4 separate regions of the Homo sapiens genome follow, and regions 1, 2 and 3 are each linked to region 4. The links come from fine-mapping of genetic effects on gene expression. A gene starts in region 4. Each other region holds a variant in brackets. All regions are shown on one strand. Distances are between the middles of the regions. Region 1 overlaps NOTCH2 (notch receptor 2). Region 2 has its middle 47 kb from the start of SEC22B. Region 3 overlaps NOTCH2 (notch receptor 2). Region 4 holds the start of NOTCH2 (notch receptor 2).

The links. PIP is the estimated chance that this variant, and not a neighbour inherited with it, causes the effect.
Region 1: its variant is the best candidate, but not a certain one, in a credible set for the expression of NOTCH2 in monocytes after LPS (Quach 2016, PIP 0.75).
Region 2: its variant is the best candidate, but not a certain one, in a credible set for the expression of NOTCH2 in T cells (TOPMed, PIP 0.75).
Region 3: its variant is the best candidate, but not a certain one, in a credible set for the expression of NOTCH2 in activated naive CD4 T cells (Schmiedel 2018, PIP 0.85).

Annotation. Positions count from the first base shown.
Region 1 is chr1:120,043,333-120,051,575 of GRCh38, forward strand. The region is part of intron 1 of NOTCH2 (notch receptor 2); the gene reads right to left. Among named protein-coding and RNA genes, the nearest start is that of NOTCH2, 22 kb to the right of the region's middle. The variant T/G (reference allele first, on the strand shown) is at 4,875.
Region 2 is chr1:120,125,623-120,133,865 of GRCh38, forward strand. It overlaps the pseudogene RNU6-465P. Among named protein-coding and RNA genes, the nearest start is that of SEC22B, 47 kb to the right of the region's middle. The variant G/A (reference allele first, on the strand shown) is at 4,171.
Region 3 is chr1:120,019,702-120,027,944 of GRCh38, forward strand. The region is part of intron 2 of NOTCH2 (notch receptor 2); the gene reads right to left. Among named protein-coding and RNA genes, the nearest start is that of NOTCH2, 46 kb to the right of the region's middle. The variant C/T (reference allele first, on the strand shown) is at 3,660.
Region 4 is chr1:120,064,765-120,073,007 of GRCh38, forward strand. It overlaps NOTCH2 (notch receptor 2), which reads right to left and starts at 4,898. Exons shown (of 34, transcript NM_024408.4): 1 at 4,570-4,898. The coding sequence starts at 4,642. It overlaps LOC101929178 (a long non-coding RNA gene), which reads left to right and starts at 5,064. Exons shown (of 2, transcript XR_254374.4): 1 at 5,064-5,247.

The DNA.
Region 1 (8,243 bases), 21 kb before region 4:
TATGAGGCATGTAAATTGGTATTAGCACCATTTTACACAAGAAACTGCAACTCAAAGAAATAAGGGCCTTGCCCAAAGTCACACAAATCAAGATGTCTGAACCAGGACCAGAGCGCAAGTCTTTTACCTACTGACCCAACATTCCTTTCACTCACTACATCTGTAAATACGCAGTTAGAAAAACCTGATATCCACCATAATCTGCAAACTTCCATAATATACATTTGTGACTACAACATTCTCAGGTGGGTAACCACCCACATACCAGCTATGCACATCAAAAACATTTACACGAAAGATCAGCTAATGACCTGCTTATTAAAACAAAACCAGGACTTGCTTATCAAAAACAAAACCAGGGACAAGAGGGGCTGCCAATGCTGTATCTCAGAACTACCACTCATACACATGCCCTAATGACTAACACCCATTGACTAGCATCACCCCTACCTACACAACAAAAGAACCCCACTTTTGAAAACTTGCCAACTCTAGGATTCAACATACTACACTATGCATTATTTCTCCAGGAAAAAAAAAAAACTACCCTATGACTGAAATTGTTTAGAATTTTTTCTTTGTAAAATTGACACTGACAAGATACCATCTCTTCTCAATAATAGAGTAGCAACACAGGAGCAAAAGGAAATTATGGAGTTAGAGATGGAACCAGATCATAAGTATGATATACCCTATCTTGACAAGATTTTACTCTTAAAAATGAAGGCCCTATTAAAAGTAGGTAACCCATCATCATTTTATCCAAGTACCCATAATTCAATTGATTAGAAATAAATCCCTCCAAGAACACATCTGCAGTTAAGTTAGTGAAAACTGAACTACTGAACAGAGAAGCATGGCCTGCTGCTCAGAGAAGACGGGTCATAACTAATGTGGTAAACCAAAAATGCCATAAGAGATAAAGTATTTTCTTCATCTGGTCTGCTTCTCTCCAACTAAAGAAATCAACTCAGAGGGGGAAAAAAGACAAAAACTCACCTTCCCAAACCAACAAATAAACTATCCAGACACATACCCTTCATGATGTTGAATCCCAATTTAGGAAACCTCAGACAGCTCAGAGCACTGTCTTATCCACAAGGCTGAGAATACAAGACTTTTGTCCTCCAAAATTAAAAGTATAAATTTTATCACTAAGTTTGGTATACTGTCCCACAAAATGCCACCTTATTCCATGTCCATACCACTAAAGAACTATAGAAAATAATGACATATTAAAAAAGATCACTCCTCTGTTTTCCTTATGGCATTTTTATTATCTGACACATATAGCAAATGTGGATCTTGAAATGGGAGATAAATTAAAATAAAGTTTTAAACTATAATAAGTCTATAATAAATAATATACTCTATAAATAAATTATCAAAATTCAGGGTATTTGGTGATAGAAATCTAAGGAGGAAATGAATTTTTGAAATGTCTCAGGCCAAAAGAAAACTAAAAGGCTATAATCAAGAAAGAAAGGAGATGGGCAACTTCTTTTTAGAGCCCCACTTCCGAAAGAACAGCTGTCTTTGCTCAGCTGTAGGAAAACCACAGGACTTGGAATAACTCACTTCATGTACTGTCCTTCTTATGTTAAAATGACACTGTTGACTCACCCTCAGTAGGATATGTGCTTGGTTAAACTTGTTTTTCCAGTAACAGTAATGAACTGAGTTACTCTACTATTGAAATGATTTGCACCGCCACAACTGAAAAAAATATTTGGAAACACCTACATATCTAGTATGCATGTCCTTGAGTAGTAGGTCTGGTTTGACTATGCAGCCAGAGCTTTATCCTTCTTCAGAGTCTCTCCACAAATGATGATCAGTGTAACAAAAGAATCTTTCACTGCATTTGCTCAGTGAATCATTGTCTTAGCTAATAGCTAATCCCCACAGTCCTGGGCTTCCAAAGTCTGAAATGAAATAAACTGTCTAATTTATTTTTCTTACTTTTAGTTACATGTACTGCTCAAATTTGGGTGATACTGCAGAAGGCCCACACCAAATCCACAACCCTTGCATGCAGCAGTAGCATTCAACAAGGTCCTGTAGGACACTCTGGTAGATTCCCCCTTCTACTGCTCTGTCATTTCTAGCTTACTTGCTAGTTAAGGTGGAAAGACTTTAAAAAAAAAAAAAAAAAAGGAGCCTTTACCAAGCCCTAACTCTAGCTTATGAACCAAACTAATCATCATATGGGTGGGAAGGCTTAATAACTTCAAACAAGGATTTTTACTTATACCAACCCAGACAATGAAAGGGAGGGTTGTTAGTTCTCCTTAGATAAAAAACAGTATTCCCTCTTAAGGAGAGATACAACCTAATTCACATATATCTTCTATCTTTATCTTTTCTACCTCAAGTATACAGTTTTTTAATTGAAAATTTTAACTCAAAAATTATTTTGCAAAGGGATATTTGAAACGTGGGGAGTAAAAGATAAGCTACAAACAAAAGAACAAATATCTTAGACATTAAACTCTTCAATTTACATTCTGGACCAGTGGTCTGCAAAATTAGGTGTGTGTACCCCAGAAGCAGGGGAGGTGTAAGACCATCCACTGGGGCACTGGAAGAAATTTTAAAACATCTCCATATTTATGGGCTAAAAAACATATAAGCTTTACTTAGAGTTAACATATGCATACATGGTTTAATAGCCAGACATTTATATAATGTATAAATATGTATTTACTTGAGGAAGCGTTCATGCTTTAAAAATGTTTTTCTTGGGGTATACATTTTTTAAGGGTTTGAAGGGTCCTGCTTTACCCCCAGATTTCACAAAGTAGGATACATATGCGCTCAAGAGTATACAGTATGCCAGAAAAATGCAAAGAAACTGGATAAACCTGGTATATCTTCCTGGCATCTCTATTTCACTCACTCTAGGGTAAGTGACATTCATTCTTCCCTATAATCAGGTGCTTTGGAAGACACCTCTGGCTAACATGTCATTAGGATAAAAGAGGCCACAAAATGATGGCCTGGATTCTGGGTTCTATGCCTGGCTCTCTATCTTCTAGCCATCTGACCAAGGGCCAATCACTTCGCACTTCCAGGCCTTTCCAGCTCCTTCCTACTCAAATTTTGCGATTCACAAGTTAAGTTTTTCATCCCATCTTTAGTTGCTTCATGGCCCTGCACATGTCATTCTTCTAATTAGAATGTAACAGCCACTCCTCTCCACCAATCTCAGCCTCCTTTCCGCTCTCCAATGAGGCCTTGACTTTGCATTCCCTCAGCTTCCCATGATCTGTTTATATGATGTGAAAGGGCACTTTCTGGAAGGCTCTGTAAGTGTTCTCAGGTTATTACCAGTGTCCCCCAGTACTTCTGGACAGACTGTAGAGCTCCTTTGGCTAAAGTGCTAGAGGCAGCATTCTGCATGGGGGACCAACATGTATTATCACCTCACCATGCTGAAAATCTACAGCCTGGCCCCTGATCCAAATCAGCAATATACTAATATTAAGGAAAAAGTAACAGAAACCAAAATCACCCACCTAATGAAGATATATGATCTAGCAAAAGAAAATGAGGCTGAGAACATCCACAGGTAAGCCAGGCTATGAGGAACATCGCTCTGAACTCAGCAGGAACAAAATGAGGAACCGGGGAGAGTACAGAGAAGTGTTAACTCACACTGGTAGGATGCCCCTTCTCACTCAAAACAGCTGAGTTCATATCCCAGGCATGGCCGCTGTATCAAAATAATTAGTAATTAAACAAGTTAATATATGCAACATGCTTACAGCTTGGCACTGTTAAGATTATTACCCTCTTTCCTTCAAGCACAGCAGAACACGAGAAATGTCACATCTTTATCTGCAGACTTTGGGGGATCCAAGGCAGAATTTTCACCTACTCAGAGCAGGCTGAGATTCAACTTCCCTTTTCAGGTTTCATCGACATCCCTGAAGGTTCCATAGCATATCTGCCATCATGTGGAAAGATAAAATTCAATTCCCAGGCATTCCCAGGTGCACTTCTAAGGAAGTGGTATGGTGTGAAGAATAAAGCAATGGACCAAGGGCTAAAAAGTCAGACATCTGGCCTGGCACAGTGGCTAACACCTGTAATCCCAGCACTCTGGGAGGCTGAGGCAGGTGGATCATTTGAGGTCAGCAGTTCAAAACCAGCCTGGCCAACATGGTGAAACCACGTCTCTACTAAAAATACAAAAAAATTAGCCGGGTGGTAGTGGCACACCCCAGTAATCCCGGCTACTCGGGAGGCTAAGGCAGGAGAATCGCTTGAGCCTGGGAGGTGGAGGTTGTGGTAAGCCAACATCGCACCACTGCCCTCCAGTCTGGGTGACAGAGTGAGGCCCTGTCTCAAAAAAAAAAAAAAAGTCAGTCATCTTGTCTTTGTACTGCCACTGACTATTTTTGTGCTCTTGAAAAATTACTTTACCTTGGTTTTTTTTTTTTTTTTTGAGATGCAGTCTCTCTCTATTGCCCAGGTTGGAGTGCAATGGCGTGATCTCAGCTCATGGCAGCCTCCGCCTCCCAGGTTCAAGCGATTCTCCTGCCTCAGCCTCCTGAGTAGCTGGGATTACAGGTGCACGCCACCATGTCCAGCTAATTTTTGCATTTTTTTCCGTAGAGACGGGGTTTTGCCACATTGGCCAGGCTGGTCTTGAACTCCTGATCTCGTGATCCGCCTGCCTTGGCCTCCCAAAGTTCTGGGATTAACAGGCATGAGCCACCATGCCCAGCTGAAAAATTACTTACCTTTCTAAGGCCTACAGTTTGTAATCTGTTTTTAAAAAGTGATTAGATGACATATAGTCCCATAGCCAAGAAAATAGTAGCTTACCAACATGTTTTACTGTGACCTACAGTGAGAAATATATCTTG[T/G]ACCAGACCTCAATATTCACATATATACGTGCATAGCAAAAACAAAAATTTCAAGAAACAATGCTTGTCCATACTATGTGATACTCTCTATTCTACCCTTTTTTCCCCCAAAGTGCTGTTGGAGACCTACCAAATTGGTTTCATGACCCATTCGTGGTCATGATCTGCAGTGTAAAAAACAATGGACTAAAGCATGCAGTAAAGAATGTGGCTTGGCAATTAGACAGGCCCAATACCACTTTTTTTTTTTTTTTTTTTTGGAGACAGGATCTTGCTCTGTCACCCAGACAGATGTGCAGTGGCATAATCATGGCTCACTGCAGCCTCAACCTCTGGGGCTCAAGCAATCCTCCTGCCTCAGCCTCCCAAGTAGCTGGGACCACAGGTGTGCACCCCCACTCCTGGCTAATTTTTTTATTTTCGTAAAGATGGGGTCTTGCTATGTTTCCCAGGTTAGTCTCAAACTCCTGGTGTCAAGCGATCCTCCTGCCTCAGACTCCCAAAGCACTGCGATTACAGGTGTGAGCCACCAAGCCCAGCCCCAGCACCACTTTTAACTAGCTGCATAATCTTGGGTAAACTACTAACCTTTCCAAAGTACATCTTTTAAATTAAGACTAATACACCAGGGTTTTTTCTAAGGATTAGATGAGATAATGTATGTAAAGCACTTAGCCACACTGTGTCTGACATAAAATACACACTCAATAAAAAGTTATAGTGATGACTAATAACATCAATATTATTATTATTAAATTCAAGAATTCCAAAAGAAAGTAAATTAAGTGGAAGAAAGCTAGAAAGAGAAATAGGCTCACCTATAAGCATCAATAAACAGTAGGACTGTTGTCAGGTTAACCCAGGACTATGCTCACTGAAATTCTACAAACAAAGGGGTTTTGCTTACTTTCTTCACAATATCCCCTCGCAACTTAAGCAGTGCCCAGCACACAATAGGTACATATATTTGTTGAATGAATGAAAACATCTGGAGGCTCACCTCTATGCAGTGGAGGTGCTGTGAAGAGATCCCAGCAACGCCTGCACAGCACCCCTGCCCAAAAATCCAAACACCTTGAGATTGTTGTAAGCCAGTGACTCTCAAAGTGTACTTTCCCAAACAGCAGCAGTATTACCTGGACGCTTTTTAGAAATGCAATCTACCAGGTCCCGCTCCAGACCTACCAGATCAGAAACTCTGGGGGTGAGCCCAGCAATCTGTATTCTAACAAGTCCTCCAAAACTTGATGTGCACTCAAGTTTGAAAACCAGCATTACAAACTGATGATTTAGGGACCAATAGCAATTCCAGGGAGCTACATGTACAATCAAACGGACTCCTGCAAAGTTTATTGATTCTAGGAATTAGTTACTTACCTAGTTCAACCCAGACTTTTCAGAGTTAGCTGCAACTTCCAAGGAAGTTACCAAGAATTGCTTCTCCTCTCTGCTTCTCCTTAGTGCACCAATAAAGCCTAATTGCTGCAAACTCTCTGAAACAACCACTCTAATATTCAGCACAAAGCCTGATTGCTAAAAAAATGCAAAACCTATTTGTTAAATGATCTTTTATCTAAGCACATTCCCTGGGCTCACACTATCCATACCAGAACTTCTGGAATGCAGGCTTACGGTGTTTTTTCAAACTCTACATTAGTTCTCAAAAAATGAACAAGGTCCCACAGCCAATCTGCATGCAGCAACTTTGCACCAAAGTTATAACAGTACTGATCTACCAATACCTTGCATTTCACTATTTGCCAAAACAACAAGACCTTATTTAGCATCAATTTTGTGTACATACACTTCAGAAAGAAGATAACCAGATATTAAAGATAACCAGATATTAAAACTCCAAAGTTAAGGTTTGTAATGTGTTGATAAATCAAACAACACATATTTGTATCACTAGATTGAGCCCAGTAATTTCTATAGAACCTTAATTTCCCAAAAGGTACCTTAATCAGACTCTAGTCAAACACAACAAGATTTAGAAAAAACACACTGTTTTTTATCAAAAGGCAGGAAAATATAACTGTCTTCTTTCTACTCTGGTAAAGGATTTCTAAATATACCTTCCAAGGGCAAAAGGGTGCCTTTGAAAAATAAGAAGATTCCTTATTTCTGTCAATAGAATAATGATCCAGTTATATACCAAAGAGCAGATAGAAGACCTGGCTTTGGAGTCATGTGACTCTGCATTAGATCTCATGGGGTCTCTGTCTCAGTCTCTACAAATAAAAACATGGCCTTGTCTCTATAAAAGATACAATGTACATAGAAGTGTTTTGCAAACTATTATATATTATCTTCTCAACATGCAAATTTATCCCTGTGAACTGATTCTTTCCCTCCCACTCACAGTGGCCAAAATAATTTATATTAGAATGTGTCCATAGGTGGCTTAATAGCAGTTGTGACAAAAGTGTAAACTAGAAAAGATACTGAATATTTACACACACATAAAGCAGCATGAAGCCACAGAAGGCTTCAAATGACAAAGAAATGAATTAGAAAAATCACCCACAGTACACTGGCCCTTCCTGGTTTTGGCAAGGATTTCAGCCAGAAAGACATGGTATTTAAGAAGAAAAATTAATAAAAAGAAAACATAAAATGAATTCTTTCAGAACTTCACAAAAGGTTATGTTTAAAAAGAAGTTTGGGAACAAGGGGATGCAGAGGGCTATGTTTTTTTCAGGTCTGACTTATCCTTTGCTATGGGTACACTGTCTTTTCATGTGGCCTCAAAGAAATAGTTGAGCCATTATTGTTGTTGATAATGACGAGCAGATGCTGATGGGATGATTGCACATCAACAGTTCTCAGACTCAGGTCTTGTGTAATTGGGTGTGTCAATCTATGTCACTCCACAGATGGTTATTAAACTAGTTACAACTTCCCTAAATCTTTTCACTAGATCTATGCAGCATTCTGGACAGCTATTCCTTGCCAACTGAGATTAGGCACTATTATAAAAAAAGTTTTGAAAAAACAATTCCAAGGTCTATTCCTCCTCCCAACACACACACACACACACACACACACACACACACACACACACACACGCACACACACACAGAGTTAAATCAGAGATACTTAATTCAGATATTCAAATTTTTTAATTTGAAATTTAAAATATTACCAAAGCCATAAATATTCCTTTAATGCAGTGAATGTAAGAAATCTATTAATTTCAACCTGTCTTGAATAAAAATTATAATACATATATAATTTTCTATGAAAAAATTGTATGTATTTTGGATAATCTATGTACCTCAGGAGTAGCCCTTCTATCAAAGCTCTTCTCAGGATGGTGGAGAATGGTGAATCTCAGCTCTCACAACATAAAAGTGCCAAATTCTTCTT
Region 2 (8,243 bases), 61 kb after region 4:
AAAAAACTCACCAAAATTCTTACTTGCTTACATATGCATAAAGAAACTCTGGAAACACGCATAAGAAAGCATAACAGTCCTTATTTCTGGACAGGGAGAAAGTGGAAACTGAGCTGATGGGAGACATATATGAGGGAAACGTTTCAGGCTGTGCCTCTTTGTATTTTTCTGGTTTTAAAACCATGTGAATGTATCACTTAATCAAAACATTAAATTTTGGTTGAGTTCTAGGAGGGAGTGGAGCATGTGTTTAATCTGCTGTCTTTAACCAGAAGTCTCAAGTATTGTTTTTCTAAATTAGCAGCTTCAATGTTGAAACCATGAGAAGCTACCCAGCCAAAAGCCATTCCAAACAAATCCAGAGCCATAAGCAAAAATATAGACAAATTTGGCTTTGTGAAAATTAAAGATTTATGCAAAGCAAAAACCAAAAATCAAATCAAATTTAAAAAGATCAGAAAACCAAAAACAAATTGGGAAAAAATTTTGCAACAAGTATGACAAAAGGCAAATTTACTTTAAAATATGGAATTTTGACCAGGTGTAGTGGCTCACACTTGTCATCCTAGCACTTTAAAAGGCTGAGGCAGGGCTGGGTGCTGTGGGGGGCCGAGGCAGGCAGATCACTTGAGGTCAGGAGTTCAAGACCAGTCTGGCCAACATGGTGAAACCCCATCTCTACGAAAAATACAAAACAATTAGCCGGGAGTGGTAGCACATGCCTGTAATCCCAGCTACTTGGGAGACCGAGGCAGGAGAATCACTCGAACCTGGGAGGTGAAGGTTGAAGTGAGCTGAGATTGCGCCACTGCACTCCAGCCCAGGCAACAGAGTGAGGCTTTGTCTCAAAAAAAAAAAAAAAAGGCCAAGTCAGGAGGGTGCCAGACTGCAACTCCAGTCTGGGTGACAAAGCAAGAACCTATTTCAAAAAAAAAAAAAAAAAAAAGATGAAGTTTTTACAAAGCAATTAAACACAGATAAAAATCCAATAGAAAACAACAGGCAAAGGACATGAATATACTACACAGGTGAATACTTACAAATGGCTTTTAAATACATGAAAAATGTTCAACCTCACTCATAAATTAAAGAATGAAAATCAGAACAATGAGAAAATCAGTTTTCACCTATTAGAACAGCAAAATTATAAAATCTGATAATATACACTGGTGACGTAAAGATTTGGTGGGGGGGAGTCTAAAATATTTTTAGTAGGATTAAAAATTGTTACTAAATTTGCAGTGCATTTTGGTGCTATCTATCAAAATGTTAAAGTTACATTTACCTTTTGACGCTGCAACTTCCCTATCAGACATGTATCTGCTTGCACTGGGCATTAAGACATATTTACTTGCTCACTTCAGCTGCACATATGCTAAAATTGGAAGGATACAGAGAAGATTGTCATGGCCCCTGCACAAGGATGACATGCATGAAGCATTCCATATTTTTTTAAAAATACATATTTACAACGATATTCACTGCAGCATTATTTGTAGTCACAAAAACTGTAAGCAACCCAACTGCTTACAGGAGGAAATTGGCTACATAAATTACAGTATATTCATTCAGAGGGATATTAAGCAGCCAATAAAAAGAATGAGGCAGGCCAGGCACAGTCACTCACACTTGTAATCCCAGCACTTTGAGAGACCAAGATGGGAAGATCAGTTGAGGCCAGGAGTTCGAGACCAGCCCGGGCAACATGGCAAGGCCTGACTCTACAAAAAATAAAAAATTAGCGAGGAGTGGTGGCACGTACCTGTTGTCCCAACTACTTGGGAGGCTGAAGCAGGAGGATCCCCTGAGCTCAGGAGTTAGAGGTTGCAGTGAGCTATAATCACACCACAGCACTCTAGCGTGGGAGACAGAGCAAGACCTGTCTCTAAAAATAAAAATAAGAAAAAGAATGAGGCAGCTTTATATTTATGGAATTATCTCTAACATGGAGTCTTAAGGTTACAAGCAAATTATGGAACAGTGTATATGGAGTGATCCTATTTGAGTGATTTTTTAAGTAACTTTTCTTAAATACATAGATGTGCTTGTGTACACACAAGATATCTCTGGAGGAATACATAAGAAACAAATCATTATTACTACCTCCAGAGAAGAAACTGGGAAAATAAGGGATCAACAAAGGGAAGGGGAGTTTTTTTCCCTTAAAAACATATGTGTGTGTATATATATATAATCTCCAAGTGCATGATTTTTAAAAAAATAATAGGTACATTAGTAAATGTTTTCGGTCGCAAGCAACAGAAACAATTTATAGTTAATCTAAGCAGTAAATGAATTTATTAAAAAATATTAGGTAGTTCACAAGCTCTCCAGGAGGACTAGAAACCCAGGTTTAGAGGCTACATAGCCAGAAGCAACACCTAAAATTGTACTGCAGAACAATATCATGAAGTCATCAATGCCCCCACTGCATGGAAACCACTGCTCGGTGAATGCCCCAAGCCTGGATGCTGGTCCCTGCTGCTAGAACCACCAGAACCACCACCACTGTAGCATCTAAAAAATGAGTGTTGTTATTACAACTAATGCCACTCCCTGCTGCAGAACAGATTCAGCAGTCTTTGCTATTTGAGGTCACTAGCTCCTGAGTCAAAAAGCAATGCAGATCCTTATGCCTATGCATACCTGTAAGGGAAGCTGGAAAAGAAGTATCTGACATTTTCAGCTTCTAAAGTAAAAGGTTGTCCTCTGTATCCCATCAAGGCCTATAAAGTGATGAATGCTTCAAATATAGAGCATTTAGATAACAGAGGTGGAGAGAGAGAGAGAGAGGAAAATAAGGAAGGAAGAAGGAGTTTCACATCAGTTTTCACTTTGCTTTGGGGGAAAGTATCCTGGATGCCATATGACATACTCACTTTCCTGTGTCTTTTGCATGTACTGTTGTTAAGAATCACAGGACTTCAGAGTAGAAAGTTCCCGATAGAGGATTTAGTTCAAAAGCATTGTTTTCTAGTTGAGAAAAACAAACTCAAGTAAAGTTTGGGAAAACTCAAGTTGCCCAAAATTACTCATAAGAGTTTCTGATTATGTGATTAGGTTCTCCCAGTCCAGGGCCCAATCCTCCATAGAATGTTCGGGTATTATTAGTACTTCAGCCAAGGCTCTAATGCAGTATCAAGATGCAGATTTGCTTCTGGTAGGGCTTCTTGAAGAAACTGGTGCTACTTATTATAAATATTATTAAACATTTGTATAGGACTTTAATGTTTATTTTTTAAAATTTTTATTTGTAAATAGTAAAATCATTTATTTTTAAAAAACAACAAAAATATAGGAGGATTTAAAGTAAATGGTAAAATTCATACCTTCATCTTGCTTTCCTACTCCCTAGGAATAATCAGTGTTGAAAGTATGCTGAGTATCTTTCAGTTCTTTTTCTATGTGTATGCACATATATTTGTAGGTATTTATAGACATACGCATACCACATATATAACCTTTCATATCTTGCTTTCCCACTCTACATGCATCATGGACATAACTGATACTTGAAGTGGATTCATGCCAGTAAGTTATTGCTAGGTTGGGAAGCACCGCATGGAGACATGGTGCCTGAGGAGAGGATGTCACAAACCATGAAAGGCTTGGTGGTAAGGTGATATTTTTGGTCCAGTGAGCTTCATGGTGTCACTTGAAGTATAAATTGCCTCAGGAAGAAAACATGGGCTGCTTCAAAACATGAAAGTAACCTCCAAAATCATCTAGCTCAACCTCATTTGTAGGTGAAGAACTATTTTTCCTGGGAGTGGGGGTGATTATGGACCTTGCCCAAGATCACCCAACCAGGACAGTGACAGAGTTGGGATTTCTTTCTTTCTCCAAGACCCTGGCTCATTGCATTGTGTTGCATTGCTTTCTGCAAGTTTCAGAGGAGAGAGAGGGCAGTGGTTAGTTTGAAAACACACATATGCTCAGATTACATTTGATTTCTCAGACTGTAGTGCTGGGGCTCCCTGCCTGACTGTGTCCATGAGTTCTTCCATGAAGTTTTACATTTAGCTTTTCTTTTGCCCACTATATGCCTTATTGACTACCATTAACCATCTCCTTGGGGACTATGAATCTTACTTTTCAGTCTTTTTATGGCAATTTGCACTCTTTACTAACACAGCTTTATTATTTGTTCAGGTCTTGGGAGAATATTGA[G/A]TAAGACATTATATCAGATGGATGACAAAAGGAGGGGAAAAGCAAGAAAGACCACCAAGTTTACATAGATACCAAATTTATTTAATCAGGGAGGAGTCATTTAGTGCCAATGAGGGAGGGGTAGAATACACATTAGAAAAAGACACATCTTCTGCCTGTAGGAGCTTACTTTCTAGAACAGTTACCTCTAGTCTCTTTTCTTCATACCACTCCATCAAAAAAAAAAGAAAGAAAGAAAAGAAAACCAGCATACATGCCTAATAATTGCATGTTTGCTATAAATTCCATACACTCTACTGTGACATTTTAATATTAGTAAAGCCTAATTTTCTTAATATTTTAGATTAAAAAATAAATAGAAGCAAGTATTCACATATGTTTTTCTCATACCTCTATGTACCATTTTGAGCACTTCACTTTGGAGTCCAGTTTCAACAGGAGAATCAGATGCACACCCAAAATACTAGAAAGCTTGGGAGTGTGAAGAGGGCTCTAATGTCAGGGTAAGCAAAATATTCTTAGGGCATCAAGGAAGCATTGCCAGAGGAAAGGAAAGCTGAGGATATTCAAGGACTTCTGACCTACTCCGTGGGCACAGCGTCTCTGGGCTTGGACAAGGGATTAGTGCCAGGCTTGATTTCCTTGGCTGGAATCTGTACATGAAGGCTGCACATGAAGAGCCTACCTCACCCCAGAAGCATCCATTTCCTGGCACCTCAAGCATATATGGGCTTAATAAATAACATGTCATTCCATGATGATAGGGACAGACATATTTGGCCCATAGCTTAGAGCCATCCCCAATTGTCTACACTCAATGGTGGGGCAGCAAGTACTGTGGATATGGAGCTGGGAGGCTGAGCTAAATCCTAGCTATCTTACTAACCAATTGTATGACTCTAGCCCTTAAACTCTCTGAGCTTTAATTTTCTCATCTGTAAAATGGGAATGATAAATGCCTTCCAGACCTATTTACAATTTCTAACATTTGTTGAGTTTTTCAATGTGCATTACATGTATCATCTCATGAAATCCTCATGACAAAATAATGAGGTGGAGCTATTATTGTTCCCCTTTTGCAAATGTGGAAACTAAGTTTTAGAGTAGGTAATCTGCCTACAAGTTTACACAGCTAGAATGTGCAGAGATGGGATTCTGAGGCTTGCTCAACTCTGAAGCAAATGTCCTACCCACTCTACTTGGCTGCTGACCATGAACACACTTCATGAACTCTGAAGTACGAACAAGGTACACAGAGTGTAAGATTTAGTCCTTGTCCTTAAGTCTAAATTCAAAATATGTTTATCTATAAAGCGTGTTTTTCTGTTTTTGTTTTTTTGAGATTGAGTCTCGCTCTGTCAGCCAGGCTGGAGTGCAGTGGCATGATCTCAGCTCACTGCAACATCCGCCTGCCGGGTTCAAGCAATTCTCTGCCTCAGCCTCCTGAGTAGCTGGGATTACAGGCGCCCGCCACCACACCCAGCTAATTTTTTTTTTGTTTTTATTTTTAGTAGAGATGGGGTTTCACCATATTGGCAAGGCTGGTCTTGAACTCCTGACATCATCATCCACTTACCTCAACCTCCCAAAGTGCTGGGATTACAGGTGTGAGCCACCATGCCCAGCCTATCTATAAAGTGTAAAAGTCCGACAAAGTAGGATTTGGTTAGAATGAAAAGGTGGAGAAAGAACTTCAATGTTAGTTTCCTTATCTTTAGTCCCTTACAACGGTATATGATTACTGGAAAGAGCACTTGGTTAGCAAGAAGAAAACCAGTTCTGTCCCATACTTGCTCTCAACTTTAGGCACTTCATTTAAGCTGTTTACTCATCTATTAGGGGTCCTAATGAATGAGCTCTAGAGGGTCTTTTTGCCTGACAATCCTCAAACTCCATTCTCAAAACTTCCTGCAATCGGGAGTCTCCCTCCCCTCCATGGAGAGGGCGGGACAGAGGCATGTAGACAGGGAGGCGATCCTCAGGTCAGCTAGGGCTTACTCAAACAAGGTCCTGTGGGGGCAACAGGGAGAGTGGATGGGGACTCAAGCCAGAGCCCTGGTGGGATGGGCCGGTAATTATAAGGAAACACTGCAGAGAAAGTTTCTGTTGTGGTTGTTCCCTTTGTTTACTTTAGGCAGTTCTGTCATTTTTTAACTGACCCTTCCCAGATGAGATAGTCAGTTTTCAGCTGGGTAAAGTCAGGGCCTTGCAACTGATGGGGTATTTGAATCCTCTGTGGCTCAGTTGCTGGAGGGAGGCCAGGGCAGCTGAAACTCCCCCGCCCTTTCAGGGAAGTGAAGCTGGGGCTACAAACTTGCTGACAGTGGCTGGTGGCCTGTAAACCCAAACATCCTCCTCTCCTCCGTCTCGGTGTAGCAATGTGAAAAAAACAAAGCCACGAGCTTTCCAGAGCAGGGGAAGGCTCTAGCCAGATTCCCTTCCAGCTACTCCCTCCTGCACTTCGGCCCACAGCCACATGGTACAAGGTTATAGTTACAGTTGAAAACTGCTGACGTCTACTTTTTGGTTGTTGTACAAATAATAATTAATAAAACACACACAAAAAAACACACTTTTCTTCATGGCTAAATATTCACATAGTTGATTCAAACCTAAATATGCATACTTGCTTTTCTTTTCCTGTTTTCTTAAGTTTGAATAATAGTCATGTAGCTGTTTAAGAATCAGACAGAAGGAAAACTCATCCGCTTAGTACTTTTCTTAAATTGTCCAGTTTCTTTTGGCCTCTGAATACCAGAGTCTTTTATGTGTAAGATTAGAAACATCTGGCCAGCATATCTGAGTAAGGCTGAGCTAAAGCGGGATGAAACTAGGTAGAATGGCCTGCCTTTCTGAATTATAGAATTTTAAGCATTGATGGGACTCAAACTTACTAAATTCTACCTCTTCATTTTGCAGATGAAAAGACAGTCCCAAGAGGTTAGGATTTGCTTAATGTCACACAGCCTGCATCAGAGGTGAACCCAGAACCCAGGTCTCCATACTCCTAGTCTGGCACTGTTTTTATATATATATCCATGCTTAGAGAGGACTTGTGTATTAAAATTTTTTTATAAAAGTGCATCATCCCTGTCTTTGAAATTATTTTGCAATTCTTACCCAATTATTTTGCAATTCTTACCCACTGTGTATATATTCTTTAGGAGAAGAGAGAGAGTTAATGTTCATAGAACACCTATTATGTGCCAGGTTTTTCCTACATCTTCTCATTTAATTTTCACCATGCTATGAAGGAGGTATTATTCTACCTGTTCCACAGATGATAAAACTGAGAGGTTAGGTACACTTGCCGAAGTTCACATAACTAGGAAGTAGTGGACTCAGGATTCAAATCCAGATCTCTCTCATCTGCAGCTCCCAGACTGTGCTACACCACATTGCCACAGCCACTGTGCACATCACAGCTTACAGTAACATACTTTCCACTTTTCAAATTATGACCCAATTTTCATAATCACTACTTTTGTGGATGTATTCACTCATTCAGTAAATTATTTATTAAGCAGCTACTCTGTGCCAGGAATAGTCAAGACACTGAGGATATAGTAGTGAGCAAAATACATAAATCCTTGCTCTCATAGAGCATGGGTTACAGGGGGAGGAATAGACAACAGCCCAGAAAAATAAGTCAGGTAAAATGATAAGCGTTGGAAGAATAAAGCAAGGAAGAACAGGATATGCTAGAGGCTGAGGGATGGGAGGAAGATAGCAAGTTTAAATACGATTGTCAGGAAAAGAAAGTATCATTGGTTACATTTGAACAAAGATCTGAAGGCAGTGAAGGAACAAACTAATGCATATCTGGGAGAAGAGACTCTGAGGCAGAGGGAAGAGTCAAAAGTCACTGGGGCAGGAGGAGGCCTGTTATATTCAAGAAACAGTTAGGAGGCCTATATGTTCAGAATGGAGTTACAGGAAGAAAAATATCAGATGAAGTCACAGATGGAGGCCAGATGAGGTAGGGCCCAGGACTAATCAAAGACATTGGCTTTTATACTAAATGAGAAGGAGCCATGGAAACTTTTGAGTAGTGGATGACACATTTAGGTTTT
Region 3 (8,243 bases), 45 kb before region 4:
ATACCTGATTTCTCAACTAAGGGAATGAACTATGCAGTACATGAAAACCAACCCTCTTCTTAGTGCCTCTGTTTTCCTATCACTTTCCCTATCCCAATCCATTCTTGCTCTTGCCTTAGAGATTCTTAGATTCTGATTTTCCTCGCAAAACATGGCCACAAGCCTACCGCCTCTCTGTCTGGTAGAAGTACAAGAATCAAGAGTCAAGGCCAAAAAGGTCTGAGGGAAGGAGCATAATTGCTCCCAGCTGCCCTCTCTTCCTGTCCCCAGGTCCTCTCCTTCACCCTCACTCTAGGCATTCTACCTCCAAACGTTCAAGTTAACATGTGCTAAAGGAAGGATTTTCTAAATCACTTACCTGTCACTGTGAAACTAGATTAATCCACATACTGGTTTAGTAAAACCTCACACAAACCAGCATATACACAGAAGACAGCAATCAAGATGAAGAAAACGTTTGAAACTGTGTCATTAAGAAAATGTGATGAAGAAATTGGTAATGATTATTCCAGGAAATAACAGTCCCTTCTAGTCTCCTCAGCTCCCTTCCTCTCACCCTTCTCCTACCTATCCGTCTTCTAAGGCACCACTAATATTCAAAGATTTAGGATCTAAGCAGTGCACCAAAAGTCCTCTGATTTTACTCTTTTGTCCCACAGTACTTGTTCCTTTGTCTGAGTGTCCATAGTTATTATCTGTGCCCCTACACTGGGATATTACAAACTGTTTTATTTTACACATCTCTGTATGCTTCATCTCCCCAGCAAGACTTCAGAAGACTGCCACCATGTCTTATGCAGGAGAAACTGCATTCACTGTCAGACAGTCTCTGGGTACGTATACTTGTGAATAAGGAAGTCAGGTAACACAGGCCTCTTGGGCTTTTCTGGGTATTCACAATACCCAGTACAGTGATCAGTTATAGTAGCCTGCTCAATAAATACTAGTGTGATAAAAATTAAACTTTTGTTTGAAAAGTGAGGATTCTATAGTGCTTCAGAGTCCATCTAACTTTCAGTGTTCAGCACACAGGATTATAGACAGTGACTGCAGGAAAATGACCTGAATCTATACAGATTTAATAGTCTAAATGCTACCATTCTACATAAATCCTAATCAGATTATTTTCTTATTAACACCTACCTTTCTCCTCATATTTACGTGAAGGCAAAAAACTGGATAGAATGCTCTAGTTGAATGTGTTCGCTGAATAATATCACCCATCACTTAAATAATGCCTTTCTTAGTCTTTATTTTCACTTTTCTTTCATAAAACTCTTTTCATAAAGATCAAGTAGAAGACTGTTTAGGAGAAGAGCATTTCGAGCAGAAATTAACTGCATTACTTTTTCATAGGAGAAGGCTGATGGAGTCTAAGAATTGGCAATACATTTTTGGACACAGAGGACTAAGTGCTAGTGAAGGTCACTGACAGTGAATAAATAGGATCTAGAAAATGTGCGGAAATCCAATAGAAAGTTTAATTTACCTTACGTTGGGTTGTAAGGTAAAACTCAACTAAAAGAAATATGAAAACAAAATGCATAACACAGTCGCATGTGCACACATGTGTGCATACACACATATGACAGGAGGACGGAGAGACACTAAACTTCATTCCTAACTACTGTATGTTGAGAGGAGGCCTAATGAAAACCTCTATCACACCCACATATTTATGCTAGCTTAACAAATTTTAAAGTGCTTGGAAATTTTTAGATGATTACTTTTTCTCATATTCTGATATCCCCCATTCCTTTGCTATCATTCATAAGGGCAGATGTAGACAAAATTAAAGAATTTAATTAAGCCTCTCCATATCCTGAAAGAGAAATATTTCTCATTTTGCTTAGTCACAAAAAAAGGGAGAAAAAAAGAATTCCTGTGTGAAATTAATGGTGCTAATGAGACATGCCTGAATAAGAAACTTCACATAAGATTACGATTGACCTGGAGACTGTGTTGAAAGAAACCTAGCTAAATTCACATCTATTAATGCCAGACTGCAGGCCAAAATTTGTTGATTTAATTTCTTGGCAGTTACCCAAGACAGGTAAAAGGATATAGGCAGAGCCTAAGAACCAGATTCTCCTACTTCTTCACTGAACACTGAAATATATAAAGGTCCCAACTGAAAGAATAAAAATTAGTTGAAAATAGTATGGAAATTATGTTGCTATGTGTTAAGAAGCTACTAACTGGCCAGGCACAGTGGTTCAGGCCTGTAATTCCAGCCCTTTGGGAGGCAGAAGTGGGAGGATCACTTGAGCCCAGGAATTCGAGACCAGCCTGAGCAACATGTGAGACCGTGTCTCTATAAAAAGTTTTAAAAATGGGAGACTGAGGCAGGAGGATGGATGGCTTGAGCCTAGGAGGTGGAGGCTGCAGTGATCCATGATTGCTCTACTGCACTCAAGCCTGGGCCACAGATGGAGATGCTAGTAACCAAGACTTCCTTTACAAAAGACCCCTTAGGGAAACATCATATTTGATAAAGGATTTTAATAGGACATAAGTATTAATAAGAATCACTTAGGAATGGTACTGTTAAAGGGTCCAGATCTCAAGTCCTAATACAAGGAAAAGCCTCACAGGACATACTCATATGCATCTGTAACTCACTATGCAAATGTAAGGTGCCATATTCAACAACTTGTGACTTTTGTGCTGGCAACAACATTTATCAAAAATCACTGAATTTAACCTGTCTCAATTTCACAACTGCATAAATCTGTCTGGACTTGCTCCTGTTCCATTAGTAAAAAGAAAGGAGAAGTTTCAAATTAGTTCTCTCTACTGAAGCACACTTTAATAGACAATATCCTCTATCCCCACCTTCACTGCCCTCTTCTTCTATTTCATCCACAGTTATTACATTGAGCTTTCATGTTAAAGGCCATTTCTCAGAAATGCAGTATTCACCAAACCTGGCCCATGTACACTCATGTAACTATATGCAGATTTAGTGTTCTAGAATGATATGAGGTACTCAGGCCTACCTAATGCTACTGTCTTTAAATTTAGAAATTACATAAAGCAGTGTTTTAATCATATTCCTGATCTGAAAAGTCCCCTTTTTGTATACTTTCAAATGTTCCACACTTCCTTTTCAGAAGGTTCCATTTGAACTACAAACTTAAAACAGGTAATTCTGTCCCATTTTATTGACAGGCAAACTGAGACTCAAGGTGACAGTACATTTTCCACGAGTATATCTCAGGTTAGCTACAGAGTGATGGGATCTTGAGTGAATTATTTAACTTCTCTTAGCTTCCATATAGTCTCTCTCTCACATGGGGACTAAAGTAAATACATGTTAAACTACTTGAGAACAGACCCTAATACGCAATAATGTTAGCTAGCATTATAGACTTTAACTTGCCAAAGATCCAATTGTTAATAGGAATCAGGACTCAAACTTAAGTCTATCTGGCATAAAAAAACCTATGTCCTCAGCTGGGTGTGGTGGCTCACGCCTGTAATCCCAGCACTTTGGGAGGCCGAGGCGGGCAGATCATGAGGTCAGGAGATAGAGACCATCCTGGCTAACACAGTGAAACCCCGTCTCTACTAAAAATACAAAAAATTAGCCGGGCGTGGTGGCGGGCGCTTGTAGTCCCGGCTACTTGAGAGGCTGAGGCAGGAGAATGGCAAGAACC[C/T]GGGAGGCGGAGCTTACAGTGAGCCAAGAAAGCGCCACTGCACTCCAGCCTGGGCCACAGAGCGAGACTCTGTCTCAAAAAAAAACAACAACAAAAAACTATGTCCTCTTCATGTCACCAGTCAAGGATCTTCCAGGACCCTTACTCCACTCACCAGTGCAGGCTGAACCATACTAGATCATAAGGCAAAAGAAAAAATCAGTAGTACTTATCTCCTTATTTAAAATTTTGATAATTTTCAACTTATTTTGCATTAATTTTGATTTTTTGAACAACTACATACAAACATTATTTTGATTAGTGAGTTTTTTGGCACTCTCTTAAATTTCACAAGAGAGGCCTGTGCCTTACTTGCCTCACCATGGTCCCAGCCCTGCCATTCACTGGCGGCCCCTGTACAGAAGGCCACATTATAGTCAGTTTTTTTCATACTTGGCTTTACTCTGAACCTCTCTAAGAAGCCCAAGTTAATGAACTGGTAATTATTTTATGACTTCCCAAAGAAGTGTGAAATAATATGATAACAATATTGATTAACTGCAACTACTACCACAGACTTGAGTTATCTGTTATATGTGGTACTCATAAATAGCATGCAATAAATAACTCTTGAATTAATAAAACCTGAACACATTACATTTTAAGAAAAGATTACTCTATGAGAGGTATTTAATGAGCCAAGAAAACAGCATTCTTTGTTTTATGTTAAAAAGATAAATGAACTATGGAAAACTGGCCAAGCTTCTGCTATCATTTTCCAGAAAAACTATATACACAATGTTCAGCTAAATAGGCACCGTACTTGAAGGAACTAGGCTGGCAGAACCAGTTTCAGCTGAGAAGAAAGAGAAAGTAATTTAACAGTTGATATTTTTCCCTGTCTATTTCTTTGATCTGACAATGCCCCTGTGCCTCCCTGAATGCACTCACAAGAAGGTGAAGGAAAAGGGGAAATGCTGAGTCAGCCATGACTTCTGAAAACGCCCTTTTGGGGGAGAAGCACCACAACAGAACCATTGCGAATGCATCCTCCATAAAAAGCTAAGTTCTAAGGGATTATGAGTGTCTCTACTCTCTACTTACTATACAGACATTTACCAAGAAGACAAAGAAGGCAATGGCTCTAGTTTTTCTTGGATGGATTCAGGAAATCTGGACCACCAACATGACTGCCTAATCCTGGCAAGGAAAATTGTTAGCTGTTAATGTTTAATGTTTATTACAGCTAGCAGACAAGTTTTAGACAAAATGTGACACAAAGTTATATTTTATAACACTTTATATTTATAATAATTTACCTTAAAGTGTAGTTTTTAGATCAGCACTTTAGCAAAAAGTGGACATTCTCAAATGCAAGCACCCATCTACAGGAATGTATACAACTCACAGTGACTTTCTGCTGTTTTACAAACACTACGTTAGATATTTACCAAGTGGTATGTATGAAATTCTGAAAGGCCCCTTTATATTTCCAATTTTCATCATTAAAAATAATTGCAGAGTAACTTATATCAGACTAGCCCTCTTGCTCTGGACAAAATATCAAAGGCACTGGAGAATCACTGAAAGCAGGCATAAACTAGAAGGGATATAAGCCTCAGAAAAAGCAAAGCAAACTATATGAAACCCACATTTACAGTTTTGTTTTTTTTTTTATCGTGAAGGTACACCCCAGTTCATGCAGCAGAAGAGGAAGAGTGTGCAAGCAGAAAATGGAAGTCCTGTGATACTGAGGAGTCAGAGGTATCTGGAGCTGTCACAGCAGCTAGAATATGAGGAGAAAAATTCCTGGAAAAGACAGAACCACAGAGTGGGTAGCTTCAAAGTATGCATACAACTCTGCTCAAATCCTTAAATAATTCCTGACTATGCATGAGCAAGATAAGATTCAGAAACCCAAGAGAAAGTAAGAGCTGGACGGCTGAAAAGACTGAGCAGAAGGCTCCTGGGGCTGGGAGGACAAGTTCTGCCTTAGAGGGGCTTAATGAACACCTCAGGGCTTGGTAGGCCCCTCACACTTACCACTGAACCCCTAGAAGGGTCACATCTTGGGAATAAGAACCCTATCCCATGACTAAGATTTGTGTCATCGGACTAAGGGCAGAACAGAAGTAGGCCCACCCTAACGTGTCCTAAAACCTAGCATCCATAGGATCAAGATGATCTGCCAATCTTGACAAAATTCAACATTCTTTAGTGGGAGATAAACTTTAAAATCTATCACCCACAATGTCCAGTAAGTAATGTAAAACTACCATACATGTGTAAAGTAAAGGGAAGTCATACCCATGGTCCAAAGAAGGAGCAGTTGATAGAAACAGAAACACATCCATAGACAACCCAGATGTTAAGAACCAGCAGACAAAGATTTTAAATAACTACAATAAATGTCCTTAAAATACATATTTTGTCAATTATACAAATCATAACCTAACCTACCCCCAGAATCCTAGTGAACTTGAGTTGTCCATGATCTTTAATCAAATTGGGATTTAGAATGGTTTATATTTGAAAGTCTGAAGCAAACAACTTGAAAGTGATTAATGACATCAAATTTAATTACATATTTACACCTCCCAGTAGGACAAGGGAAAGAATAAAATATCTTATCTCCCTGTAGTGAGACAGCTTTATTAAGATTTGACAGTAGTTATTTAACAGCAATAATTGAGTTTTATGCAAGATTATACACGTTCTCCTAATCTGGCATCAAAATCTAATCACAGACTGATAGGGTACTTAGGCTCCTAACAGTGAGAAAAAACAGTGGAGCTGAGTACAAAACTAATCTTCAAAAGTAGTTATCTTCATCTGTCAATGTGATCTTATCAAGGATTTTTATAATTTCTATAAACAATCATTATATTTTAGCTGAATCAGTAGCATTATGCTGTCTAAACAGATAGTCAGATTCCTTCTATTTTAAAACACTTTCTACCAGTTCCCATCCCACCACTCACCACTCACCCCTACGCTGGCCCTGTAAAAGGAATTTGGCTTCAACTTTCTTTTCTTAATCCACTAAGCAATCGCATGAATAAAAAGATAATCACATGCCCTGCATGCCTGATAGAATTTTTATAAATCTTCTAAGTGTTTTAATATTTATTTTCTATTTTGTGAAAATAATATTTACTGAACAAGCTAGATCATCTTCTTTCTCCACAGAAAAAAAGGTAAGGTTGGTGAAAATACACTGAAAGCTCTGCTAGGTACACATTATTTTTGCATAAAATTTTGCTTAAAATTCTGTGGAGGCTGGCAAAGCACTGTAGAATGATTGACATGGCTGCCTTGATATTGTTCTTGCTTTTTCTTTGTCCACTTATGTTGACCCTGCCACTCCTAAATATGCTAATATTACTTTTGCTGAGGTAGGGAATCACTCTCTTTATACAAGTTTTGTTGTTCATCTTGGTCTCCCAAAAGGATGGCCTCACCAAATTTTTTCTTACTCTCTCTCAAGGAGTTTGTTTCCCTCAAAACAGGAAAGACATCTGAGGGACATACCCAGAACTGTATCCATAAGCATTCCATCCTATCAACAATTAACAAGTAGCCAGGGACAGAATTTAGGCAGCTCCATTTTCTTTTTTTTTTTTTTTTTTGGAGACACAGTCTCGCTCTGTCGCTCAGGCTGGAGTGCAGTGGTGCAATCTTGGCTCACTGCAAGCTCCGCCTCCTGGGTTCAGGCCATTCTCCTGCCTCAGCCTCCCGAGTAACTGGGATTACAGGTGCGTGCCACCACGCCCAGCTAATTTTTTTGCATTTTTAGTAGAGATGGGATTTCACCGTGTTAGCCAGGATGGTCTCCAACCTTGGTTGGAGAGTATGAGACTAGCAGCCCAACAGTCCAACAAAGAACTATTGGACTTCTTCCCAACAGTGACCCTTAGGTGTCCTCTCCTGGTAAGTGCTCAGAGATTAGTCTCCCCTAGAAACCTTCTTTCCCCATGTCAGACCAAAAATATATAGGCGAACACTTAGAACATATTTGAAATTCTCCATATATAAGTCACCAAGTTGAATGATCTTCAAATAGAACCAATTTGCCTCTCTGTATGGTATTACCACCCTGAATGCTATGTGAAGTAAATAAATTTTTTTTAAATTTTACTTTTAAGTTTTGGGATACATGTGCAGAATGTGCAGGTTTGTTTCATAGGTATACATGTGCCATGGTGGTTTGCTGCACCTATCAACCCGTCATCCAGGTTTTAAGCCCCACGTGCATTAGGTATTCATCCTAATGCTCTCCCTCCCCTTTCCCCCCACCCCCTGACAGGCCCCAGTGTGTGATGTTCCCCTCCCTTTGTCCATGTGTTCTCATTGTTCAACTCCCACTTATGAGTGAGAACATGCCGTGTTTGGTTTTCTGTTCCTGTGTTAGTTTGCTGAGAATGATGGCTTCCAGCTTCATCCATGTCCCTGCAAAGGACATGAACTCATTCTTTTTTATGGCTGTATAGTGTTCCATCATGTATACATGCCACATTTTCTTTATCCAGTCTATCACCGTTGGGCATTTGGGTTGGTTCCAAGTCTTTCCTACTGTAAATAGTGCTGCAGTAAACACACATGTGC
Region 4 (8,243 bases):
AGCAAATATACTTTACTAAATGTACATATTCTCTCAATCCAGTACAAGTTTGCAATATCCAACTCAATGAAAAAAATCTCAAAAAAAATTATCAAAATAAATATAAACTTAGTTAACTCTAATTTTAAAAATAGTATTCCAAAAATGACTAGTCCCCAAAATGATGAAATTACAATAAGGTGTGGCTATTCTGGACAAAATAACAGAAATTGCTGGCCTAGTAATACAGTAATACAGGAAGCAGTGGAAGCAAACTTGAGTGAGAGGCAGGGGGTGGATGGCAGTGCCTTTGAAGTGAGATTCCAAAGTCAAAGTGACCTTTATAAATTGCAGAAGTGATCAGAAAAAGAAAGAAAGAAACCCCACACACAAAGAAATTCAAAATTACAAGTTAAAATGAAACATCTGGGGAAGGGAAAAATTTGGTTTTTCCCCAAATGTAAGGTAAGCATGACTCCTGCAAATACTGTTTTTAAAATGTCTAGGAGTACCACAGTTGTCCAAAATAAGAAAATGGCTAAAAATAATTGTTCGACTGAACAAGTATTTATTGTGTGCCTATTAGATACCAAGGCATCATGCCAGGTACAGGGGTAGGGTATGGGCATTAGAATAAACACATAAATGAAAATACACGATTCCTTCCTCATGTACGCATTAACAATAAGCACTTGAGGATGTTATAAGAGTTTTTGTGCACATAAGCGCATTTGTACACGAGATGGAAGCAATGAGGACAGTGAATGAGGCACTGGACACCAGAAGAAAGGAATTCTAGTCTCAACTCTAATTGGCTCTGTGACCATGAACAATGAACATCAGAAAATGGAGGACGGAAACAGTGGCTCTCCTACAAGGTCACCAAACCAATTAATAACAGACCTGGAGAAGAATTCTGGTCTTCTGGCTCCTAGTTCAGTGATCTGTCCAAAATACTACACATACGGTAGGCTGACAAAGAAAGAAAAGAAGACCTTTTGGTTTCAAGTCATTTGCAGAGAAAGGGGGAGAAACAAAAACAGGAAAATCAGGAAAGGGTGGAAGGAAAATCAATAGTTCAAATTTAGGCATTCGAACTGAGACATCAAGAAAGGAAGCATGTAACTATGGACTGTGAACACAATATAAAGAAAATGATGTAAAATTTCTTATATCCTTATTCAAATCACGCCTTGCAGTTTTTTACTCTAAAATCATTGCAGACGTATATAGATAAAGGGTCAAAAAACAACATGTATGAATGACATTTAAGGAAAAAGAGATAACAGAAGAAAAGGGAAAAGGAGAGGTGGAGAATTTATTATATCATCTAAATATATGAAGCCCTTCTAAAGGGTCAATGCAGACATATTGCACCCAGATAAATAGAAGAAATGACATTATATTCTATATCTCTTACGTTAGCAATTTTTAAATTCCTTGAGTCAGAAGCGTTAAACACTGGAATGACTAAGGTTACATTTGTTATGGAAATTTCTTAAATTTAGAAAGACCTCATACACACACCTGAAGGTAAAAAAAAATGTACTTAATCAGTGGGTTGCAACCAAGTTACTTGTCAGAATCACCTGTAAACCTTGAAAAAATATGGATTCTCAAACTTACCTTATCAGAATCCCTGGGTGCTGAGTCCAAGATCCACCCCAACAGATTTTGATGTAGCCAGGACACAGAGTTTTTTCTACCATAATGGGAGAGGTAGGGAGGAGGATCACTAGGAATGGCAACACAGAGTGGGAACTAGATCAATGCAAATTTTGTGGGCAAAATAGAATTTCTGTGGGTGTGATATTTTTAAGATGTATTGTAAGGCTGCTCTGAACCATCCAAGCATATCCCACTGAATTTAAACATTCTCTAAAGGTCCTGAAGTCAGCAACTACAATCCAGGTGAACCAAAAGTTGCTCCTCTATGTCATAGAAGCCTACAGGAGAGGCAGTAGGGTGGGAATGGAGCAGAGAGATCCCAAGAAGTTATGGGTAAATATTTTTTAAATCTAAACATTCAGAAAAATAAGAGAGACTAGGAATCACTCTCCTCCTCCTCTCCACCACACCAAAAAAAAAGGAATAATAAGAAAGTGAAAGGAAAAATAGTTTTAGGTTAAATTTCATCACCATCTGAAAGAAAATTACTCCGATTTTGTTTAAGCAAGAGAAGAATTCAGCTGAGAAATTATCTAGCAGGCAGCAAAATCAGGGAGTCACTTCCCATTGCAAAGCAAAAGAAAACAAGGAGCAAGAGGATGGTCCTGGATAGCTGTTTAGACAATCAGACATACTGCTAACATCTCCTTGCCTTAGAAACTCCGTGATGTTTAAATTAACAATTGGCCACAAGCCAAACACAGGAACACTCAAAAGTTTAGAAGGGTGTGCTGCAACTGGTACCTTAGCAAAACACAATAATAAATTAAGAGGATTCAAGAAGCCTTCACTGTAGACTCTAAGAAGATTTAAGATTTGTACCGAGAAACGGCTTCTAAATCTCTTCTACTGCATTAGTTTAGCATCTAAAGAACACCTGTCTAAAAATCAAAATATCTAAATCCTATCCTTTGAGTCAACTTGACTAACACTCAACTTGACTACCTAAAAGCTAGCTAATAATCGCAGCACCTCAGCAGAGCAGAGGTGGAGGGCATAGTTTTATGCACTGAGATCCTATAATAAAAGAAGCCCTATGTGTCAGAGTAATCCCATTTCTGATATCATATTATTTAATACTTAATTTTTCAAATCACTTTACAATTATATTTATTATTCCCTACAATTCTCTAAAGCAGGTTATTCCTTTAGTCCTGCTTCATAGGTGAGGAGACTACATATCATGAAGATTAAGTTATTTACCAAAACAAGTTAATGATAGACCAAGGATTATTACCCTCAGACTGTCTCATTGATCATACTCCTCTCTATCCTAAAGCTACACTTAAAGCTTTCACTCAAAGAAAAAGGAAAAGCAAAAACACCATCATATATGCTCTTTATTAAATGCTTCAGAAACAACGGCTCTGCTTCATCACTACAAAGCCTCCTGGTCCACTTCTGAAATTCTTAGTGACCTAGACGTGTACGAAATTTGAACTTTCCAAGAAGTATCTAGTTGGTGCTGAACAACCCAGTACTATTTTCGGGTGATAAATAACCTTGTTCTCTTTTTAAACATCTGCGATTGACATGTCGACTGACTGTTAACAATGAACAAAGACCATATTTTTCTGAAGCTCATCATCTTCCTAACCTTTTCTTTGAAAACAGATGTAGTTCATGTACTAGTTTTTTGGTGAAGGTAAAAATCTTTATTCAGATTAGGCTCAGAAAAAGAAGGGGCTGCTTTCCGTTCAACAAATATGCACAAGACAGCATCCCACTGGGAGCATCAATCTCAGAAGCAGTAAAACACAGCCTCGGCCCTGAAAGGACTTTCTGAACACCTTTGGAGTGTCATCCGTTTAATATACATTATTTTAATTAATCCTATTAGCTGGATAATTTCTTTCCCATTTTATTGGTGAGTTCATATAGCAGAGCTGGATTTGAATCCAGGATTACAGAGCAGGGCTCCAAAGCCCAAGTTATTTCCACTAAAGGGTCTGAAGAAATGTAGAATCTAAAAGTGTGGGTGGGATGGGGAAGATATGATTTGATTCCCTTTCCTTGGTCCAACCGTGTTAGAAACATCCAACCATAAAGAAGCTTTCTAAGGAAGCCCTTTGAATTAACGTATCCACTTTTTCTCACCCGCCCGTGCCCCACCCCCAGCCATGCCAAAGGAGCAGCAAATGCTGCTGCCAGGTTGGAGGAATTGGTGATCGTCACACCACATTCCTGGGTCTGGACACAGCCTGAAACAGCAGCAGAGCTCCGCGCCTCGGAAAGAATAACAGCAGTTGAGATTTTTAAATCATGTGCCTCAGCATGCAGCCACACCAGTTGCCCTACTTCTCCTGCCTCCACCTTTCAAAGACGCGAGCAGCACACACGGCTCCCCCGGACTTTCGGTGGGGTTGGAGTGTCAAAACTCAGGCGCGCCGCAAAACCCCGTCCCCATCCAAACCAAGCCCACACACCCGGCCCATGTGCCGCCCCCTGGCAAAGGCGAGGCTGGCTGCGACGGTGCAGGCCGTTTGGCTTGGCGGCCCTGCCCCCGCTCTCCACGCCAGAATCTGGCATTCCTTCGCTCAGCCCCTCCGAGGCCCGCCGTCGGCTCTCGCTCGACCCCAAGAAACGCGGAACCTGAAGGGCAAAACTGCCCACCTCCCTGCACCCTGGCACTACGAAAAAGGAGTTTCTGAGACTTGCTGCCGGCCTCCCTCCTGCCGAGGAGGCGTGTAAGGGGTCCCGGGCCGCGGGGAGCAGAGGCGGCGGGGAACCCCGGCGGTTGGCGGGGCACCACGGGAGGGGCCCCCGGCGATGTCCAAACTCTTGGGAACCCAGCGAGTGGCCTCGCTCCGCGCCGGCGGCCGAGCCTGGCCTTCCCACACAGAGAAGGACCGAGGGGGAGAAGGGTCGCCCCAGGTGGCAGCCCCGGGCGCCGCGGACAGCGCCCCTCAGCCCGATACTCACCATGCGCGGGGGCCGCGCAGCACAGCCAGAGCGCCAGCAGCGCCCACAGCAGAGCGGGGCGCAGGGCGGGCATCTTCTCGGTCGCCTCCTCCTCCGCCGCCGCCGCCGCCGCCTGGGCAGATCCACATGGGGAGGGGGTCCCGATAGAGGAGCCCCACTCTCTCCTCCCCTCCTCCTGCTTCAAAGGCTCAGGCCCTGGCGCTACGCTCCGAAGCCCAGGCGCAAATGCCTCGACTCCCCGCGCCCCGAGTCCGCCGCTCCTCGGCCGCCGCCTCAGCCGCCGCCCGAAGTTTGGCTGAAACTTTCTCGGGTGTGCAACGAAGCAGCCTCGTGTGTCCTTCCGCCTCAGCCGCCTCCTCCCACCGCAAGCCCCGCCCCACTGTCGCCGCGGCCTCGGCCCCGCCGCCTTGGGCACCCAGGGGTTTCCCGCAGGAAGAAGCGCCGGCCCGAGCTCCGCGCGGAGGGATCTACTACGAGTCACTGGCCCCGTCCGCATCCTTCTCCAGCGGCCCCGGGGGCCGCCGCGCCTTAACTCGATCAGGGCTGCAGCGGCTCGCTGGCTTGACCAGTGCAGAAGGGGCGTGGGGGTGAGGGGGGTGGGGTAGGACTCTGAACTTCAAGCACTGGAGTTTGCCGGGATCGTGAACTTGCAGGGAGAGGCGGTCCTCATCCAGTGAGGTCTGTATCGCCACCTACACCCACACATCCACACACTGCTTTGCTAGCTAGAGGAATGCTCTGGAGTAGGACCAGTGCTGTCAAAGAAGGAAAGTGGGCCAAGGCGCCAAAGTCCATTAAAAAGGAATAGAGCCATCACGGAGTGGTGCTGCCCCATTCATTCATTCATTTGTTCATCCGTGTAGCGAATATTTCTTAAGTGCCTTACTTTGCGTAGCTGTGTGCTTGGCAGTGGGATGATACCAAAGATGCACAAGCAACTTTGAGTACCAAGACTTTGCCGCTGTGGGCTGGGGGATTCAGGGAAGGCTTTCCCAGAGGAGCTGGGATGAAAGCAGGATCTTGAAAGGTCAGTAAAATTTGTATAAGACAAGGAGACCAGCTAAGCTAAGGATATTCGTTGTAACACTGTAATAGCAAAACCTTGAAAACAACATAAATGCCCACCCTTAGAGGAATGGATGAATAATGTATGGTATATTTATAAAATGAAATGCAACACAGTAATTGAAAAGACTATAGCTATTTATGTCAATAGGGATAAATCTTAAAAACTAAATGATAGTGAAAAAACTAATCACAGAGGGAGACAAAGTATACCATTTATGTATATTTTTTTCAAGACAATACTACACATTATCTGTGGATGCATATATATAGATATAGATATTAAGAGACTATAACCAGAATAGTAGTTACTTCCAGGGCAGGAGAGTAGGGGGTGTGATCAAACCTGGGTACAAGTGGGCTTCTAAGAAAAGAGCTAAAAGTAAGAACAGCAACAATAGTTGTATGGACATATCATTCCAGGAAAGAGCCCTCGTGAAAGCAAAGGTACAGTCAAAAGAGTAAGTAAATGAGTTCTGTCTCTGTTAGCAGTGAGAGGAGTCAAGGACGGAAAGGGGGTTGGGACCAAATTATGCAGCCTTGAATGGCAAGCTGAAAGGGTGGGGAGGCAGCTACCTCTTAGGTCACATAAAACTATTGAAAGTTTTTGAACAGAGTTGAGATTGATGGAAAGGAAGATTGCTCTGATAATTCTGTAGAAAATTGATTGTTGGGGGAGCAAGAGGTGAACTGGAGCCCCAGGACCAGTCAAGAGTTGGTGAACAGTCCAGGCACAAATTTAAGAAGACCTGAACTAATAAGGTAGATTTCAGAAGGAATGAATCCGAGACAATGTTAAAGAAACAGAAAAAAAAAATGGAGGTGTGACTAATTGGATGTGGGAGTTTACAATCCTGTTGGGATGGGAAATCCTACCCATAGAACCTCTCCCTGACTCCTATAGGATAAAATTCAAACTTCTAAACATGGTACATACAAGGCCTTTTCGTCATTGGGCCCCATCTCCTGTCCTCCCTGCCCCTGTTGTGAACTTCACACAATAACAGTATTGACTAACTTGAGATTCCCCCAAACATATCTTGCTGTTTCTGTCCCTGTATCTTTTGTTCCTTTGGCTTGGAATGACTCCTGTAGTCCCCTTCCCTCCTCCTCTTAATGAACTTCTAATCATAATTCATCCTTCAGTCCAAAGAAGGCTTTGCCGACACCGCAATAAATTCCTCCCCCTAACAGACAGTCCCTCCACTGTCTTCCACTGCCGCTTCTTTATCTTAACACCGATACTTATTTTTCACACAGGACTCTTTGTATTTCTGTGTTCTCAACTAAGTTTTGAGGTCCTCATGGGCAAAGACCACAGCCTATTAATCCCCAGTGTCTATCACATAATAGATGTTGAACTAGAATGTGAAACAACACTAAGCAAGTACAAGTCAGTATGGGCATAGACCTATGAAGTTCCAAAACTGCATGTTAACAAGCACTTTAGGTAAGCAAGTACCATTAGTGAAAGTAGTCACATTGAAATACTGGAAACCCTTTTCAAAAATAATGTAGTCAAAATATTTTTGGAATTTGTCTTGTGCAAGTATGTTCAGAGAAAGATAACATTATTTTTCAGTTGTTTACCCACAGTGTTACCAGTTCGATCTTCCTCTTTACTCACTAAAGATAATTCATAGTGACTTGGCTGCATACAAATTTTAAAAATCACCTGCAAAGATAAGTTTTGTCACTATTAAAATATATTCAGAAGAATATAAGATAGTTATCCCCAAAGAGCAACTCTAGAAGCGACTGTAGCTATGACAACATTATTAAAATAAATGTGCAGGCCAGGCGTGGCGGCTTATGTCATAATCCCAGCACTTTGGGAAGCTGAGGTGGGCAGATCACCTGAGGTCAGGAGTTTGAGACCAGCCTGGCCAACATGTTGAAAACCCGTCTCTACTAAAAATACCAAAAATTAGCCGGGCATGGTGGCGAGCACCTGTAATCCCAGCTACTCAGGAGACTGAGGCAGTAGAATCACTTGAACCCAGGAGGCAGAGATTGCAGTGAGCCAAGATCGTGCCACTGTACTCCAGCCTGGACAACAAGAGTGAAACTCCGTCTCAAAAAAAAAAAAAAAAAAAAAATAGGTATGCAGTTTCTCAAAGTAACCGTTTTAAAGAAAGCAGCTATTATGTTCACATATAACTTTTGTTGAATATGTTACAATATGAAAACTTACTGCATACATTCTGGTAAGGACAAGAGAAGTAAAGAGTAAATATGAATGGAAGTAAGGGAAAAATATGACTGAAGACATTTTTTAAAGATAAGTTTTAATGATAGAAAAATATGAATAAGGGCTACCAATTGTTTTAGTTTTAATCAAAACTAAAAATATACATCTATGTCTTTACTGATTTAAACTCACATAAAACTGCCTTCCAAAATAAATGCAGAATTGGGCACTTATTTGTTCTCATGTCTGTCCTCTCAGAGCCGATAAGCTGTAAAAAAAACTCTCAAAATAAAACTCTGTTTTATTTTCTGTTTTGCCTCGGTTTCTATCACATAAGTGCTCAATAATATATGTTTTACATAAATGCTGAATGAGGAACATATATATCTATATAAACTGGGGAACAATGCAAGACTGG